Linked DNA regions of Homo sapiens: region 2 is linked to region 1. A link means that fine-mapping ties the variant in region 1 to the expression of a gene that starts in the linked region. Tissue or cell type: testis. Region 1 holds a variant in brackets; the other region holds the start of a gene. All regions are shown on one strand. Distances are between the middles of the regions.

The links.
Region 2: it holds the start of CERS4, and the variant in region 1 is fine-mapped to the expression of CERS4 in testis (GTEx, PIP above 0.99).

The regions. Positions count from the first base shown.
Region 1 is chr19:8,151,368-8,159,720 of GRCh38, reverse strand. No RefSeq gene overlaps it. Among named protein-coding and RNA genes, the nearest start is that of FBN3, 6.0 kb to the right of the region's middle. RefSeq lists silencers at 862-1,156, 5,412-5,461, 5,582-5,631. The variant T/C (reference allele first, on the strand shown) is at 4,772.
Region 2 is chr19:8,206,131-8,214,483 of GRCh38, reverse strand. It overlaps CERS4 (ceramide synthase 4), which reads right to left and starts at 5,114. Exons shown (of 12, transcript NM_024552.3): 1 at 4,990-5,114; 2 at 3,622-3,778. RefSeq lists a silencer at 4,514-5,433.

The DNA of each region.
Region 1 (8,353 bases):
AAGAATGACCAAAGTAAGAGGAAATAAGAGAAAAAGAGAGGGTAGTTCAACCCCTGATGACTGTTGAAAAAAATAGTAACTTCTTTTTCTAAATCAGTGCTGTCCAATAGAAATATAAATGCAAGGTCAGGCTCAGTGACTCATGTCCATAATCCTAGCACTTTGGGAGGCTGAGGCAGGAGGATCGCTTGGGCCCAGGAGTTTGAGATCAGCTGGGACAACATGATGAAACCTTGTGTTTACAAAACATACAAAAGTTAGCCGGGTGTGGTGGCGGCACTTGTAATCCCACCTACTCGGGAGGCTGAGGTAGGAGGATTGCTTGAGCCTGGGAGGTTGAGGCTGTAGTGAGCCATGATCACACCACTGCATTCCAGCCTGGGCAACAGAACGTGATCTTGCCTAATAAAAAAGAAATAAAATAAAAACTAATGCAACCGACATAGACAATCTTAACTCTTTTAGAACCCACATTTTATTTCATATATATTTACTTATTTATATATATATTTTTGAGACGGAGTCTCACTCTGTTGCCTAGGCTGGAGTGCAGTGGTACGATCTTAGTTCACTGCAACCTCCGCCTCCCAGTTTCAAGCGATTCTCCTGCCTCAGCCTCCCGAATAGCTGGGATTTCAGGTCCCTGCCACTATGCCCAGCTAATTTTTTGTATTTTTAGTAGAGATGGGGTTTCACCATGTTGGCCAGGCTGGTTTCAAACTCCTAACCTCATGATCCGCCCACCTGGGCCTCCCAAAGTGCTGGGATTACAGGCGTAAGCCACCGAGTGGCCTAGAACCCACATTTTAAAAAGTAAAAAGAAACAGATGAAATTTTAATAATATAATTTACTTAGTCCAGTGTACCCAAAATATCAGCATTTCACCCCTGTCATTGCTATTTGAGGCATCTTACATTCTTTCTCTTGTATGAAGTGCTTGCGATTCCGTGTGGATTTCACACTTATATCTCCATAGAACTGGTTCAAATGCTCAAAAGCTCCCTGTGACCAGTGGCCACCTAACAATCTATGGGAAGACTTGAGTGCCCCCTAGTGACAGATTTGATTAACTTCCTCTTGGCAATGAGGTCCTCAAAGGTAAATCAGATGGCGTCGCTCCCTGCCTAGAACCCACCGTGGCTCCCTGCTGCCGCCAGGTCATGTCCACGCTCCTGGTTTTCAAGACTCCTTTCAATCTGAGTCCTGCTCGTCTCTCCACAAGCAACTTCCACTCCTTCCTTCCGGTCATATCAGATTTGCTCACCATTCATTCATTTACTGATCCATCGATTCAGCGTTTATTGAGTGCCAATGAAGGCCCTGGCACATGTGCGTTTTCTGAAGATCAGTGATATTCAGGTTTCTGGGTCTGACAATTTGCACTTAACCAACTTTATTTTTGAGTGTCAGTCTTCTTGTCTGACTTAACTAATGGCACCCTTAAGGTTTCAGAGGGCAGAGTGGAAAGCTGCAAGTGCACCCTTAGCCCGCAAGGATGAGACCAGAGGGAGAGAGGCTGGGCGGGCATTGGGGCCCCAGATAAATGGGTGCAGATGGCAGAACTGGCAGTGGGTGCCAGAGTCCTCTCTTCTCCCAGCAGGGCTAATCCTAATCCAGTTGAAGTCTGACCTCAAAGCCCACCTTGGCATCTCAAAATGCTGGGATTACAGGCTTGAGCCACTGCATCCCGGCCTCTCTTGCTTTCTTTCCCTCCCTCCCTCCCTCCCTTCTTTCCTTCCTTCCTTCCTTCCTTCCTTCCTTCCTTCCTTCCTTCCTTCCTTCCTTCCTTCCTTCCTCTCTTTCTCCTCTCTCTCTCTCTCTTTCTCCATTCTTTTGACAGAGTCTCACTCTGTCGCCCAGGCTGGAGTGCAGTGGCATGATCTCTGCTCACTGCAACCTCCGCCTCCCGGGTTCAAGCAATTCTCTTCTTCAGCCTCCCAAGTAACTGGGATTACAGGTGCCCACCACCACGCCTGGCTAATTTTTTTTGTATTTTTAGTAGAGATGGGGTTTCACCATCTTGGCCAGGCTGGTCTTGAACTCCTGACCTCATGATCCACCTGCCTCAGCCTCCCAAAGTGCTGGGATTACAGACGTGAGCCACTGCGCATCTTCTCTCCTCTCCTCTTTCTTCCTTTTTCTTCTCTCTCTTTCTCTATCTCTCTGTCTTTCTTTTTATTTGAAAGGGTCTTGCTCTGTCTCCCAGTCCGGAGTGCAGTGATGTGATCTCGGATCACTGTAGCCTCTACAGTGACATCTGGGGCTCCCAGACATCTGGGGCTCAAGTGATCTCATCTCAGTCTCCTGAGTAGCTGGGACTACAGACTCATGCCACCAGGCCTGGCTAATCTTTGTGTTGTTTGTAGAGACGGAGCTTGCCATGTTGCCCCAGCTGGTCTCTAACTCTTGCACTCAAGGGATCTGCCTGCCTTGGCCTCCCAAAGTGCTGGGATTACAGGTGTGATCCCCCGCTCCCGGCTCGACATGGAAATATTGCCAAGATGTAATAAGAAGTTAAAAGAGGCTGGGCGTGGTGGCTCACGCCTGTGATCCCACCACTTTCGGAGACCGAGGCAGGCAGATCATGAGGTCAGGAGATAGAGACCATCTTGGCCAACATGGTGAAACCCCGTCTCTATTAAAATACAAAAAAAAAAAAAAAAAATTGCCAGGTGTGGTGGCGTGTGCCTGTAGTCCCAGCTACTTGGGAGGCTGAGGCAGGGGAACTGCTTGAACAGGGGAGGCGGAAGTTGCAGTGAGCCGAGATCGCGCCACTGCACTGCAGCCTGGGTGACAGAGAGAAACTCTGTCACAAAAAAAAAAAAAAAAAAAAGTAAAATAAAATAAAGGGCCACCTAGTGTGTGATTCCATTTACGTGAAACGTCTAGGCCAGGCACGGTGGCTCATGCCTGTAATCCCAGCACTTTGGGAGGTCAAGGCAGATGGATCACTTGAGGCCAAGAGTTCAAGACCAGCCTGGCTAACATGATGAAATCCCGTTTCTACTAAAAATACCAAAAAAAAAAAAAATAGCCAGACGCGGTGCCGTGTGCACCTGTAATCCCTGCTACTCGGAAGGCTGAGGCAGGGAAACATTCGAACCTGGGAGGTGGAGGTTGCAGTAAGCCAAGATCATACTACCGCACTCCAGCCTGGGTGACAGAGGGAGACTTCATCTCAAAATAAAATAAAATAAAATAAAATAAAATAAAATAAAATAAAATAAATACGTGCAATGTCCGGAACAGGCAAATCCACAGAGAATAGAAAGTGGATTAGTGTTTGCCAGGGACTGGGGTATGGGGAATGGGGAGCAACTGCTAATGGGGACAGGATTTCATTCTGGGGTGATGAGTACGTTTTGGAACTAGATAGAGGGGGTGGCTGCACATACTGCGTGTACTGAACGCTACTGAATTGTACACTTGAACATAGTAAGTGCTATGTTGTGTGAAATTGATCTCAGTAAAAGAAAACAGTAAAAAGAAGATGGTAATTGAGAGGGATTGATTTAGTTTGCAAGAAAAAAATATATTTTTTTTACAAAGATGAGAAAAAGCAAATACAGAACAAGATACAAAGGTGCTAACATTTGTGTTTATTAGAAAGAGAAAGAGGCCAGGCACCGTGGCTCACGCCTGTAATCCCAGCACTTTGGGAGGCGGAGGCGGGCAGATCACATGGTCAGGAGTTCGAGACCAGCCTGGCCAATATGGTGAAACCCCGTCTCTACTAAAACTACAAAAATTAGGGTGTGGGGTGGGCGCCTGTACTCCCAGCTACTCAGGAGGCTGAGGCAGGAGAATCGCTTAAACTTGGGAGGTGGAGGTTGCAGTGAGCTGAGAGTGTACCACTGCACTCCAGCCTGGGCGACAGAGCGAGACTCTGTCTGAACAAAAAAAGAAAAAAAAAGAAAGAAAGAAAGAAAGAAAGAAAGAAAGAAAGAGAAAGAGGCCAGGTGTGACGGCTCATGCCTGTAATCTCAGCACTTTGGGAGGATGAGTTGGGAGGATCACTTGATCCCAGAGTTCGAGACCAGCCTGGGCAACATAGTGAGACTCTATCTCTAAAAAAAAAAATTTTTTTAAATTAGACAGGTAGTATGTGCCTGTAGTCCTAGCTACTCTGGAGGCTGAGGTGGGAGGATTGCTTAAGCCCAATTCGAGGCTGCAGTGAGCTGTTATCTTCCCCACTGCACTTTAGCCTGGGTGACAGAGGGAGACCCTGTTTTTTTGTTTGTTTGTTTGTTTTTAATTATTTTTACAAAGAGGAAATAGGGCAAATACAGAACAATGTATAAAGGTGCAAACATGTGTGTTTATTAGAAAGAGAAATAATATATTGTATATGGACCCTAGACAGGTCCCCCAGCTAGAACATCAAGGCAATGGGGTGAGGGTGTGGCTGGGGGCCCAAGGCCACGGGGAAGGTTCCAGCTTTGTGGCCTGGGTTCAGATTTGCCTGTATTCTTTCCTGGTGGTGGGGTCCCAGTGGGCGATGTGGTGGCTCTGTGCCTCAGTTTCCTCATCTGTGTAATGGGATGATATCAGAGCCTGTCTTCAGGGTCTCTTGTGAGGATCCAGCTTGATCTCTTCCTCAGAGCTTTCCTGGGTCCTCTGCGGCTTCCCTCCCCGCTCCAAGCCTCATTCCTGGGCACGTGGCCAAACTCCTGGCGTTGTATGCAATGCTTTGACTCCCAGCTGCTTCCTGTGCTTATACAAAGAGGGCTCTGTCCCCAAGCCACCCTGGCCTAGGCTGGCCCAGCGCAC[T/C]CCACACACCATAGACTGCAGGCATCTCCCCGTCCCTCCTCCCATCTCCTTGTCCCCAGCCTTGACCCTGTGCTCCTGGGCACACCCTGCCCACTCCTGTCTCCATGCCTTCCTCGAGCTCATGCTAATGAACATCTGGGGTCTGCTGGCTCTGGGTGCACACAGTCAAGTCCCGCCTATGAGGGGGGGCTCCATGGCTGCTCAGAAAGTCAAACGGAGGGTGGGGCTGGCGTGACTCACAGTGACCTTAACGGGATGACAGTGGCAGCAGCGGGGGGGGACAGTTCTGGGGGACATTAATAGTGTGACAATGTGACAGCAACAGGTGACAACGTCACAGGAACTGGGAATGATGGGAAGGCAACAGGTGACAGCAACAGGTGACACTGTAATTTTAAAACCCACTAGGGGCCAGGTGCAGTGGCTCACACCTGTAATCCCAGCACTTTGGGAGGCCAAGGCGGACATATCATGAGGTCAGGAATTCGAGACCAGCCTGACCAACATGGTGAAACCCCATCTCTACTAAAAATACAAAAAAAAAAAAAAAAAAATAGCCGGGTGTGGTGGCACACGCCTGTAATCCCAGCTACTTAGGAGGCTGAGGCAGGAGAATTCCTTGAACCCAGGAGGAGGAGGTTGCAGTGAGCCAAGATCCCACCACTGCACTCCAGCCTGGGTGACAGAGCAAGACTGCATCTCGGGGCGGGGGCGGTCCGGGGAGGACAAAAACCAAAAAAAGAGAACATCCACTAGGGGTCAGGCGCGGTGGCTCACACTTGTAATCCCCACAGTTTGGGACCGAGGCAGGTGGATCACCTGAGGTCTGGAGTTCAAGACCAGACTGGCCAATGTGGTGAAACCCCATCTCTACTAAAAATACAAAATTAGCCAGACGTGGTGGCAGGCACCTGTAATCCCAGCTACTCAGGAGGCTAAAACAGGAGAATCACTTAAACTGGGAGGTGGAGGTTGCAGTGAGCCGAGATGGCACCACTGCACTCCAGCCTGGGAGACAGAGCAAGACTCCATCTAAAAAAAAAAAAAAAAAAAAAAAAAGGAAAAAGAAAAAGAAAAAAAAAAAACTAGATGGTGATGTGTGCCTGTAGTCCCAGCTACTTGGGAGGCTGAGGCAGGAGAATGGCTTGAACCTGGGAGGCGGTTGCAGTGAGCTGAGATTGCACCACTGCACTCCAGCCTGGGCGACAGAGCAAGATTCTGTCAAAAAAACAAAAACAAAAACTTTAAAACACCAGATCCCCATTGGAGCCCCCATGGACCTCATTTTACTGAGGGTGGGGGGAACTGGTGCCAGCATCTCGGATCACTGAGCAGCATCAGGGCTTAGGGTGCCAGATGGTAATGAATGGTGTCTTCCTGGGGCCCGATCTGCATGTGATGTGTGTGAATGTGGTTGGCTGCGGCACCACCACGCTTGGTCACTCTTTCTGCTGAGCCCGGTTGTTGCTGATGCCAGTGAATTGTGATGTTAAGAACCCTGACATTCTGGGTAATGGTATGACCATGAGCCGGGGACTGTGTCACAGCAGAAAGGTGAAGGTGTAAAGGTGACAGGAGACATGCATGTCCCAGGTAGCGGAGCAACCAGAAAAGAGCAGGGTGTCACATGGACAGGTGACAATGAGACAGGGTCATAGGGACAAGTGACTGTAGAATAGGAACATGGTGATGATGATGATATACATACATATTTAGAGACAGGTTCATGATCTGTTATCCAGGCTGGAGTCCAGTGGCAACATCATAGCTCACTGCAGCCTCAAACTCCTGGGTTCAAGCACTCCTCCCACCTCAGCCTCCCAAGTAGCTGGGACTACAGGTACATGCCACCATGCCCAGCTAATTTTTCTATTTTTTTGTAGAGATGGGGTCTTGCTATGTTGCCCAGGCTTGCCTTGAACTCTTGGCCTCAAAGGATCCTCCACCTTGGCTTCCCAAAGTGTTGACATTACAGGCGTGAGGCACAGCGCCTGGCTGATGATGCAGTTTTGACGGAGAGACCATGCATGTGTTTTGTACAGTCCTGGGTGGGGGGACTGTGATATGCGGTAGGATTTAAAGCCTAAATGTCCCTTCTTTTTTTTTTTTTGAGATGGAGTCTCGCTCTGTCGCCTAGGCTAGAGCGCAGTGGCGTGATCTTGGCTCATTGCAGCCTCTGCCTCCCAGGTTCAAGCGATTCTCCTGCCTCAGCCTCCCAAGTACCTGGAACTACAGGTGTGTGCCCCCGTGCCTGGCTAATTTTTTTATTTATTTTTATTTTATTTATTTTTTTTTTGAGATGGAGTCTCGCTCTGTCGCCCATACTGGAGTGCAGTGGCACCATCTCGGCTCACTGCAAGCTCTGCCTCCCGGGTTCACACCATTCTCCTGCCTCAGCCTCCCGAGTAGCTGGAACTGCAGGCGCCCACCACCATGCCCAGCTAATTTTTTGTATTTTTAGTAGAGACGGGGTTTCACCATGTTAGCCAGGATGGTTTTGATCTCCTGAGCTCGTGATCCGCCCGCCTCAGCCTCCCAAAGTGCTGGGATTACAGGTGTGACCCACCGCGCCCAGCAATTTTTTATATTTTTAGTAGAGATGGGGTTTCACTGTGTTAGCCAGGATGGTCTTGATCTCCTGACCTCGTGATATGCCCAACTCGGCCTCCCAAAGCGTTGGGATTACAGGCGTGAGCCACCATGCCCAGCCTAAATGTCCCTTCTTAACAGTGTGATGTAATAAGGGTACAGTGGGGGGTGACACTGTCTGTGATACCACATCAATAACTGGCAATAACATAACAGACCAGGGTGGCACCATGGGAAGTCTGAAACTACAGCACGCGGTGTGGACAGTAGCTTGGGTTGGGGGCTGTGAACAACCAATGCCCACTATCTGCCGTTTTCGAGCACTTCAGTTGCGGTGACTTCCAACAGCTCCACATCCTGGTCTTGCCACACCCTCCGGCTTCCTTCTCCCCTCTCTTCTGGAGGGCAGGTAGGGAGACTTCTAGGACTGAGTCGCTCCCTGGCCCACAGTTCTTCCAGGAAAGCCCTCCTCCAGACTTAGCCATGGCAACAGTGGCTGTGCAGTGTCCCTGGGATGGGACAATCTCTCCCCACCTTTTGCACCTATGCTGGGCTGCTTCTAGGGCACCCGGTGCTTGTCCCCGTGCCCATGTAAGATTCATTTGTTGCAGAACAAATCTGGGTGGACCTTGGCAGAGGAGCCTGGAAAGAGGTGTCCAAGGTGGCCGGGGAAACTGGTTTGTCCACAATAGCCCCTGGGCCCACCCTCCAACAGGAACCCCACCCCCCTGTCTCTGCTGGGCCACCTCCATCCTGGGGTTCCCTCCCCAGTCCACCCTCCCCATGCCCCAGCACCCCACCTGACCCTTCTCACAGGGTCCACGGGCCCCTCCCTTGGCCAGGATGACTGGATCTTGTCCCTGAAGTCGGCGTCTGTCCCATGCTCCCCGAGCCCAGCCCTGGGGCCCTCAATGCTCCCCGGACACAGTCTAAGACCTGGAAGTGGAGCCTTGGGAGAACCTCCCCTTTCTGTGAGTCCACCGTGTCTCCCCT
Region 2 (8,353 bases), 55 kb before region 1:
ACCATGCCTGTTCCAGCCTCAGGGCCTTTGCACCTGCTGGGCCTTCTGCCCGGAGCACTCTTCCTCCAGATGTCTAGCTGCTCCTTCAAGCCTCATCCTTGTCCCCATCACCTTCTCCCTGCGGGGACATCAGCTCCGTAAGGCTTCCTGTGGCTGTCTGTCCCCAGTGCCTCCCACTGCAGACACTTCCTAAGTCTGTGCTGAATGAACAAATGACAGACAGACAGACAGACAGGGGTGGGAGGAAAGTGGGGCCAGGCACAGGGCAGAAGGGGTCCCCAGGGCATAGCTGATAGGAAATGATCACTCTTCAGACACAGTGTCATGGGACCCTGGATTAAAATCTGTCTCTGGGAGTCCAGGAGGGGGTAGGGAGGGAAAGCTGAGCTGAGCTCCAGGCGGTTCAGTGTGTGTGTGTGTGACAGCATCCTATTAACAAAGGTATAAAGTCCAGACTCAGGGAGGGGAAGGTCTCTTCTATGCTACTCTGTTTTTTGTTTGTTTGTTTTTGAGACAGTGTCTTGCTCTGTCACCCAGGCTGGAGTGCAGTAGTGCAGTAGTGCGATCTTGGCTCACTGCAACCTCTGCCTCCTGGGTTCAAGCAATTCTCCTGTCTCAACCTCCCAAGTAGCTGGGATTACAGGAGCATGCCACCACACAGGGTTAATTTTTATATTTTTAGTAGAGACGGGGTTTCACTATATTGGCCAGGCTGGTCTCGAACTCCTGACCTCAGGTGATCTGCCCGCCTCGGCCTCTCAAAGTGCTGGGATTACAGGCGTGAGCCACCGCGCCGGGCCTCTCTATGCTACTCTGGTCAGAGCCATGATGGGTCTGAGGGGCCTATTCAAGGATGGCAAAGAAAAGCCTGCGCTTGGCCAGGCACAGTGGCTCATGCCTATAATCCTAGTGCTTTGGGAGGTTGAGGCTGGAGGCTCGCTTGAGGCCAGGAGTTCAAGACCAGCCCGGGCAACATAGTAAGACCCCTGTCCATGTGTATAAAATTTTTTTTTAAGGATTAGCTAGGCCTGGTGGTGCATGCCTGTGGTCCCAGCTCTCAGGAGGCTGAGGTTGAGCTCAGGAGGTCGAGGCTGCAGTGAGTTATGATCATGCCACTGCACTCCAACCTGAGCGACAGAGCAAGATTCTGCCTTTGAAAGAAAGAAAGAGGCCGAGTGCAGTGGCTCATGCCTGTAATCCCAGTACTTTAGGAGGCTGAGGCGTTTGAGCTCAATAGTTTCAGACCAGCCTGGGCAACTGGCAAAACTCTACAAAATCACTACAAAAAAATGCAAAAATTAGCCAGGTGTGGTGGCTTATGCCTGTAGTCCCAGGCTGATTGCTTAAACTTGGGAGGTGGAGGTTGCAGTGGGCGAAGATCGCACCACTGCACCCCAGCCTGGGCAACAGAGCCAGAACTTGTCTTGAAAAAACAAAACAAAAACAAGAAAGAAAAGCAAAGAAAAGAGCTTGTACTGAAAGGCATGGGGAACAGAACAGGGTTGGTAAAGAGCAGCCACAAAAGAAAGTGAGACGGGCTGGGCGCAGTGGCTCACACCTGTAATCCCAGCACTTTGGGAGGCCGAGGCAGGTGCATCACCTGAGGTCAGGAGTTCGAGACCAGCCTGGCCAACATGGTGAAACCCACCCCCCTTCATCTCTACTAATAATATAAAAATTAGCCAGGTGTGGTGGTTCGCACCTGTAATCCCAGCTACTCAGGAGGCTGAGGCAGGAGAATTGCTTGAACCCGGGAGGTGGAGGTTGCAGTGGGCCGAGATCGCACCATTGCACTCCAGCCTGGGCGACAAGAACGAAACTCCATTCCAAAAAATAAAAAAAATAATAATTAAAAAAACAGTAAGATGCCTGCTACTGAATTATCAAACAGGGGTTTCAAGACCCTTTCCTCCTATGACAGCCCCAGCTCCCTTGGCTCCCAGCTTGCCACCCACTCCTGGTTTTCCTTCTGCCCTCTTTCTGCTGTCTCCCAAGCTCCCAGCTTGCTTTAAAGCCCATCCTACGCCGTACCACCTGGGTGTCTAGCAGCATGGCAATTTCCAGATGCTGAGAACAGATTGCTGACTTACACCTAAAGCTTCTCCCCCATGAGCAGCTGCTCCCTCCCCCGGCCTCTCCATATCTCTCCAAGATCCACCCAAGTCTCACCCGTCCACGCCTTCACCTGGTCCAGCCCCACCATTACTCCCCTGGCCTGGTGCAGTCCCTTCCATCCTGGTCTCCAGGCTCCTGCCTTCGACCCCTGCAGTCTGTTCCCTGAGCTCTAAATAATGCCAAATGCTTGTTCAAGGCTGGCAGGCTGGCTCTGCCCTTCTTCCTCTCCCCTCTTCTGGATCTTACAACCCTGGCTTTGTGGTTGTTTCATCCAAGCACCCTGGCAGTTTCTCTCCTCTGCAATTTGCCCACTGGTCTCTTGGCCTGGTTAACTCCTCCTTACCCTTAGCGACCCAGCCAACTGTCACCTCCTCCAGGAGGCCTTCCCTGACTCCTCCTTAGGCTGAGTCAGGTGACTCCTCTGGACTCCCCCTGACCCCAGGCATGACTCTGAATTTTTTTTTTTTTTTTTTTTTTTGGAGATAGTCTCACTTTGTTGCCCAGGCTGGAGTGCAGTGGCGCGATCTCGGCTCACTGCAAATTCTGCCTCCCAGGTTCAAGAGATTCTCCTGCCTCAGTCTCCCATGCAGCTGAGATTACAGGTACATGCCACCACGCCCGGCTAATTTTTGTATTTCTAGTAGAGATGGGGTTTCACCATGTTGGCCAGGCTGCTCTCGAACTCCTGACCTTAGGTGATCTGCCTGCCTCAGCTTCCCAAAGTGCTGGGATTACAGGCGTGAGCCACCACGCCCAGCCCCTCCGTGATATTTTAATAGCCTCCAGCTCTGTGATATTCTCGTGATATTTTAATAGCCTGTTTAGCACGTATTCACAACCAGCCAGGCACTGTGTTCAGCTCTTTACCTATAGGTCATGACTGCTATTATCCCATTTTACAGGTGGAGAAACTGAAGCAGGAAGTGGTGAAGTCAGTAGCCCGGAGGCCCTCAACTCAAAGTGGCAGGACAGGGCTGGGGGGTGGTCAGGCTCAAGCCCAGCCAGTCGGAAAGGGAGAAGCTTGTGGTGCTCAGAGAAGGGGACAGGGCAGCGAGCTCCCAAGGCACCTGCCTTTCTGTGCCATCCCACGGGTGGGAGGAGGGAACCTGGGCCCACTTCTGCTGCCAACTACAGGCATCCCAGTGGCTCCTGAGCCAAGACATTCTGTGCCACGCACTGGGTCAACCGCTTTATTCAACCTGCAGACAGCCCTGGGTCAGGAGGTGGACACTGTTGTGAATTTCTCAGAGGAGAAATGGAAGCCCATACATCCCCCTGAACTCCCACCGGGCGTTAGAACCCTCTCCGGTTCCTTAGGGGTGTGGCTGCCACCGAGATCTGCCTAGCCTCGGCTTTCATCGATCCATGAACACTCCCAGGCTCAGATACTACTGACCCATTTTACAGATGGGTAAACTGAAGCTCAGAAACCTTTCCCTGGGGGCCCTACAGCCAGTTCAACGACCAAGGCCGCCCCCCACCCCCCACACCCCAGGCTCAAAGTACCTCTGCTGGCAGTGGGTGAGCTGGAAAAACAGGTAAGGAAAGTCCTCAATGCCTCTTCCTCCACGCCTGGCTGGGCCTGCTGGGGCCCAGGTGCACTGAATGAGGCTTCTAATCAGTCCCCCAGCTCCACTTCTGTGTTTATTCACAGCAGCTGCTCCTGGAAGGCAGACCCATTTGAGGCTGGGGGAGGCCGAGGGCTTCAAAGACAATTCCACAGTCCAGGAACCCTATCCCCATATAACAGACCCAGGTCGCCCCAGTGGGGTCACCCTGGCCTCTGCGCTCAGATGCCTGAGACCTTGCCTGAGCTCAGACTGGAGTCGATGGGAGCATTCCCCCATCTGGTAGGTTTTGCAAACCACAACAGCCTCTCCCCCTGCCCACCTTCCTGTGTCCCCCAGAGCAGCTTCTCCTCAAGTCTCCCAACCCAGCAATGAAAGCCTCTTCTATATACTCCTAACTACCCAGGAGAAACATCGGTCCCCCACGCTCCACTTGCAAACAGACAGAATTAGACGATGTTACTCTGCCAAAGCGAATTTTCAGTTCACCCACTTCCTATCACACCTTCCAGCCAGGTCAAGCCAGAAGCCCCCTTCCAAGTATCCCCATCTCTCCTACCCACAGCGGCTACGGGATGTTCTTAAGACACAATCCGATCACGCCATGCACCTGCTGTTCCAAGCCTCCCTGGTCCCCACCGCCCCGAGAACGGGTTCCACACTCTCCTCGCCGCTTCCCAGGCCCCGGCCAACCTCTCTCCACCTCAGACCCTCCCTCTCCGCGTTTCAGCCAGGCTGGCCTCTTTTCTGCTCCGCACACACTCCCGGCTAGGCCCTGGGCCTAAAAAGCCCTCGCTGGCTGGTCCAACCAGGCCAAATGACATTATCCCCGCCTGGGCACCTCCACCTCACCCCGGCCGCCTGATGGGTTAGCTCGGGCTTGGAATGACGTGTTTAAGCGGTTCTCAGAAGCCGTCTACGCGGCCGGGCTGCGGACTCCGAGGCCAGGGCCCCAGCTGCGTCCCCAGCCCTGGCACGTCGGGGAAACGGGGCGCTCCCCCGGCTCACACATCCGGATTCCCCCGCGTCACGAGGCCAGGATCGCCCCTACTCGCTCCAGCCCGTTTCACAGCCGCGTCCTCGGGCACCCGTTGCGCCCCGGCCCTCGTGGGGGAGCGCGGATAGCTCGGGGAGACGGCCATGATGGGAAGCCCCGAGGGGGACAGTCCCCGGCGGGGTGATGGGGGCTGGAGCCCAGCTGCGAGTGGGGGCCGGGCTGGGGCCGCCATGGCCGCGGAGGCGGGGCCGGGGACCGCCGTGAGGGTGGCGTTCGGGGCGGTGTTCGCGGCGCGGGGTGCTCGCTTACCTGGGGGTGCAGGCGGCCGGGCGCACCGAGGGCCGGCGGCGGGGCTGGGGACGGCGCGCCTAGCGGGCTACCCGGAGCAGCTGCAGACACGCGCCGCCCGCCCCAGGCAGCCGGACTCTGCTCCTGGCCGGGCCTCGGCCCCCAGCAGGGGAAAAAAGGCTTGAGTGGGGGGAGCCCGGGGCGGGGCCGTGGGGGCGGGGCCTGGGCGGGGCACGCGCCCCGGAACGGTGGGGCCTGGCGCGGGGCTGGGGCCCTGGAGAGGCGGGGCCTGGCGCGGGGCGGGGGACTTGGAGGGGCAGGGCCTGGAGCGGGCGCCGGGTCCTCCAGGCGCTTGCCCCCCTCGACGCAACTAGGCCTCTCCCTGGCCCCCGACCCCGCACCCGCACCCCATCCCCGCCCCCGTCCCCGCCCCCCCATTCTCGCCCCCGCCCCCGTTCCCGCTCCGCCCATCTCTGCCCCGCGGCGCGCCTGGCCCGGGTCCAGCCTAGCGTTTCTAGTCTGCGCCTTATCTCTCCCCTTTGAACCCAGTATTGTCCGCTGCGCGCTCCGTCCGGCCCCGGCTTCACCCCTGTTCGCTGTCTGTCTCCCCGGCCCCCTCCCAGGTCCCCTCTTCTGCCCGAGATGCTCTGGCTCTGCTCATCTGTCCACACCCCCACACTCCCGGGGCGCCCTGAGCCTCTGGGGCGCGCAGTTGGATGGTGCACAGGGGAGGCCCAGATTTCTCCAGGCCTCAGCGGCCACCCTGGGTACCCCGAGTCTGGGGCCCTGTTGGAGGGCCAGTCCAGGGGTTCGCCCGAGGCGCGCGCGGGGGCCAACCGAGGCGGTGAGGGCACCGGGCAAAGGCTGCGATTTGGTGGGGTGCAGGGGTCAGGCGACAGAGCTGGGGAGATAAGATGGGAGATAGGCCGGGTGGGTGGTGGCGCAGCCCTGGTTTTGGCTGAGGGCAGCAGCAGTGGGGGCTGGGTCCCCCGCTTGCCTGGTAGAACCGAAAATGACCCAGTCTCAGCAGCGCGCAGGGGCAGGGAGCCTGGGCGATCCCTGAACAGAGGACAGCCCCAGGGGTTTTCATAGTCGCTGGCCCACCGCATGTACTCTGGGCAAGTGGCTTCGCCTTTGGACAATAAGCCTCTGTAAAATGGGGATAATAAACCTTTCTCTGACTCAGCTCAGCAGACCCAAGACCCATGGGGTGAAGTTGGGGCCTCCCTGCCACAGGGCCCTAGGCAAGCTGAGATTTGATTTCCTCACACAGACAGGGGCGCGGGGGGCGGGGCGGTCAGGGAGGCAGGAGACCTCTGTTGCAAGTGTGGAAGAACCTGTCCCTCCAAGTTCAGACTCCTGGCGTTTGCACTTGGCCTTCCCTCTGCTACACTGTTTCTCTTTTCTTTTTTCTTTTTCTTTTTTTTTTTTTGAGACGGAGTCTTGCATTGTGGCCCGGGCTGGACTGCAATGGCATGATCTCGGCTCACTGCAACTTCTGCATCCTGGTTTCATTCGATTCTCCTGCCTCAGCCTCCCGAGTAGCTAGGATTACAGGCGCCCACAACACCCGGCTAATTTATATATATATATATTTTTTTTTTTGGAGAGACGGGGGTTTCACAATGTTGGCCAGACTGATCTCAAACTCCTGACCTCGTGATCCACCAGCCTTGGCTTCCCAAAGTGCTGGGATTACAGGCGTGAGCCAGCATGCCCGACCTTCTCTTTTCTTTTTTTAAAAAAATCTGTTAGAGGCTGGGTGCGGTGGCTCACACCTGTAATCCCAGCACTTTGGGAGGCTGAGGCGGGTGGATCACCTGAGGTCAGGAGTTTGAGACCAGCCTGGCCAACGTGGCAAAATCCCATCTCTACTAAAAACACAAAAATTAGCCTGGAGTAGAATTACGTGAACCCAGGAGGCAGAGGTTGCAGTGCGTGGAGATCGTGCCACTGCACTCCAGCCTGGACAACAGAGTGAGACTCTATCAAAAAAAATTTCGTTAAAGATGGGAGTCTCACTCTGTTGCCCAGGCTAGAATGGAATGTCATGATCCCAGCTCATTGCAGCCTGGGACTCCAGGGCTCAAGCAGTCCTCTCACCTCAGCCTCCAGAGGAGCTAGGACTATAGATGCCTGCCACCATGCCCGGCTAATTTTTTTTTGTTTTAAATAAAAAAACTTTGGTAGGCAGGGTGTGGTGGCTCATGCCTGTAATCCCAGCACTTTGGGAGGCCGAGGCAGGTGGATCACGTGAGGTCAGGAGTTCGAGACCAGCCTGGCCAATATGGCGAAACCCCTTCTCTACTAAAAATACCAAAGTTAGCTGGGCATGGTGTTGCGCACCTGTAATCCCAGCTACTCGAGAGTCTGAGGCAGGAGAATCACTTGAACCCAGGAGGCGGAGGTTGCAGTGAGTCAAAATCGTGCCGCTGCACTCCAGCCTGGGTGACAGAGCAAGACTCTGTCTCAATTAAAAAAAACAAAAAAAAAAACTTTGGTAGAGGTGGGGTCTTGCTATGTTGCCCAGGCTGGTCTGGAACGCTTAGGCTCAAGTGATCCTTCCGCCTCCGCTTTCCAAGGTGCTGGGATTACAGGCAAGAGCCACTGTGCCCCAGCCTCTTTCCCTTTTCAAATGCATACATACTTCTCCCTGAGCCTCAGTCCCCTCCTCCTTCCTCCATTGCCTGCTTTACCCCACCCCCACCATATTCACCTGTTTATTTTCTCCTCTCCTTCCCTCCAAGAGCTTGTTTGCACACCTGGAAAAGAAAGATAATAAAGCAACTCTTCTCAGTTGTTGTGACTAGGGAGTTATTGAATATCACATGTCGCATACTCCAGGGTGCTCAGAGCATGGCATTTGTTTGTATTAATAATAATATATGACCGGGCTTGGTCGCTCACACCTGTAATCCTAGCACTTTGGAAGGCTGAGGTGAGTGGATTGCTGGAGCTCAGGAGTTTGAGACAAGCCTCGGTAACATGGCAAGAGCCCCATCTCTACCAAAAATACAAAAATTAGCCAAGCGTGGTGGTGTGCTCCTATAGTCCCAGCTACTCAGAAGGCTGAAGTGGGAGGATCACTTGAGCCCAGAAGTCAAGGCTGAGGTGAACTATGATCATGCCACTGAACTCCAGCCTGGGCAACAGAGTGAGATCCTGTCTCAATTAAAAAAAAAAAAAAGAGACACCAGCCTGGGCAACATAGTGAGACCCCGGTATCTACAAACAATAACGATAATATAATACAGGATACATGGTGGAATGGTGGAGTCCACGCCCCAGTGGAGAAGCCCCAGGACTCCGGAGAAGTGGAGTAGGGGAGCTCAAAAGAGGACCTGGGCAGGCCAGGGCTGGAGAGAGATTTCAGGTGGAAGGTACC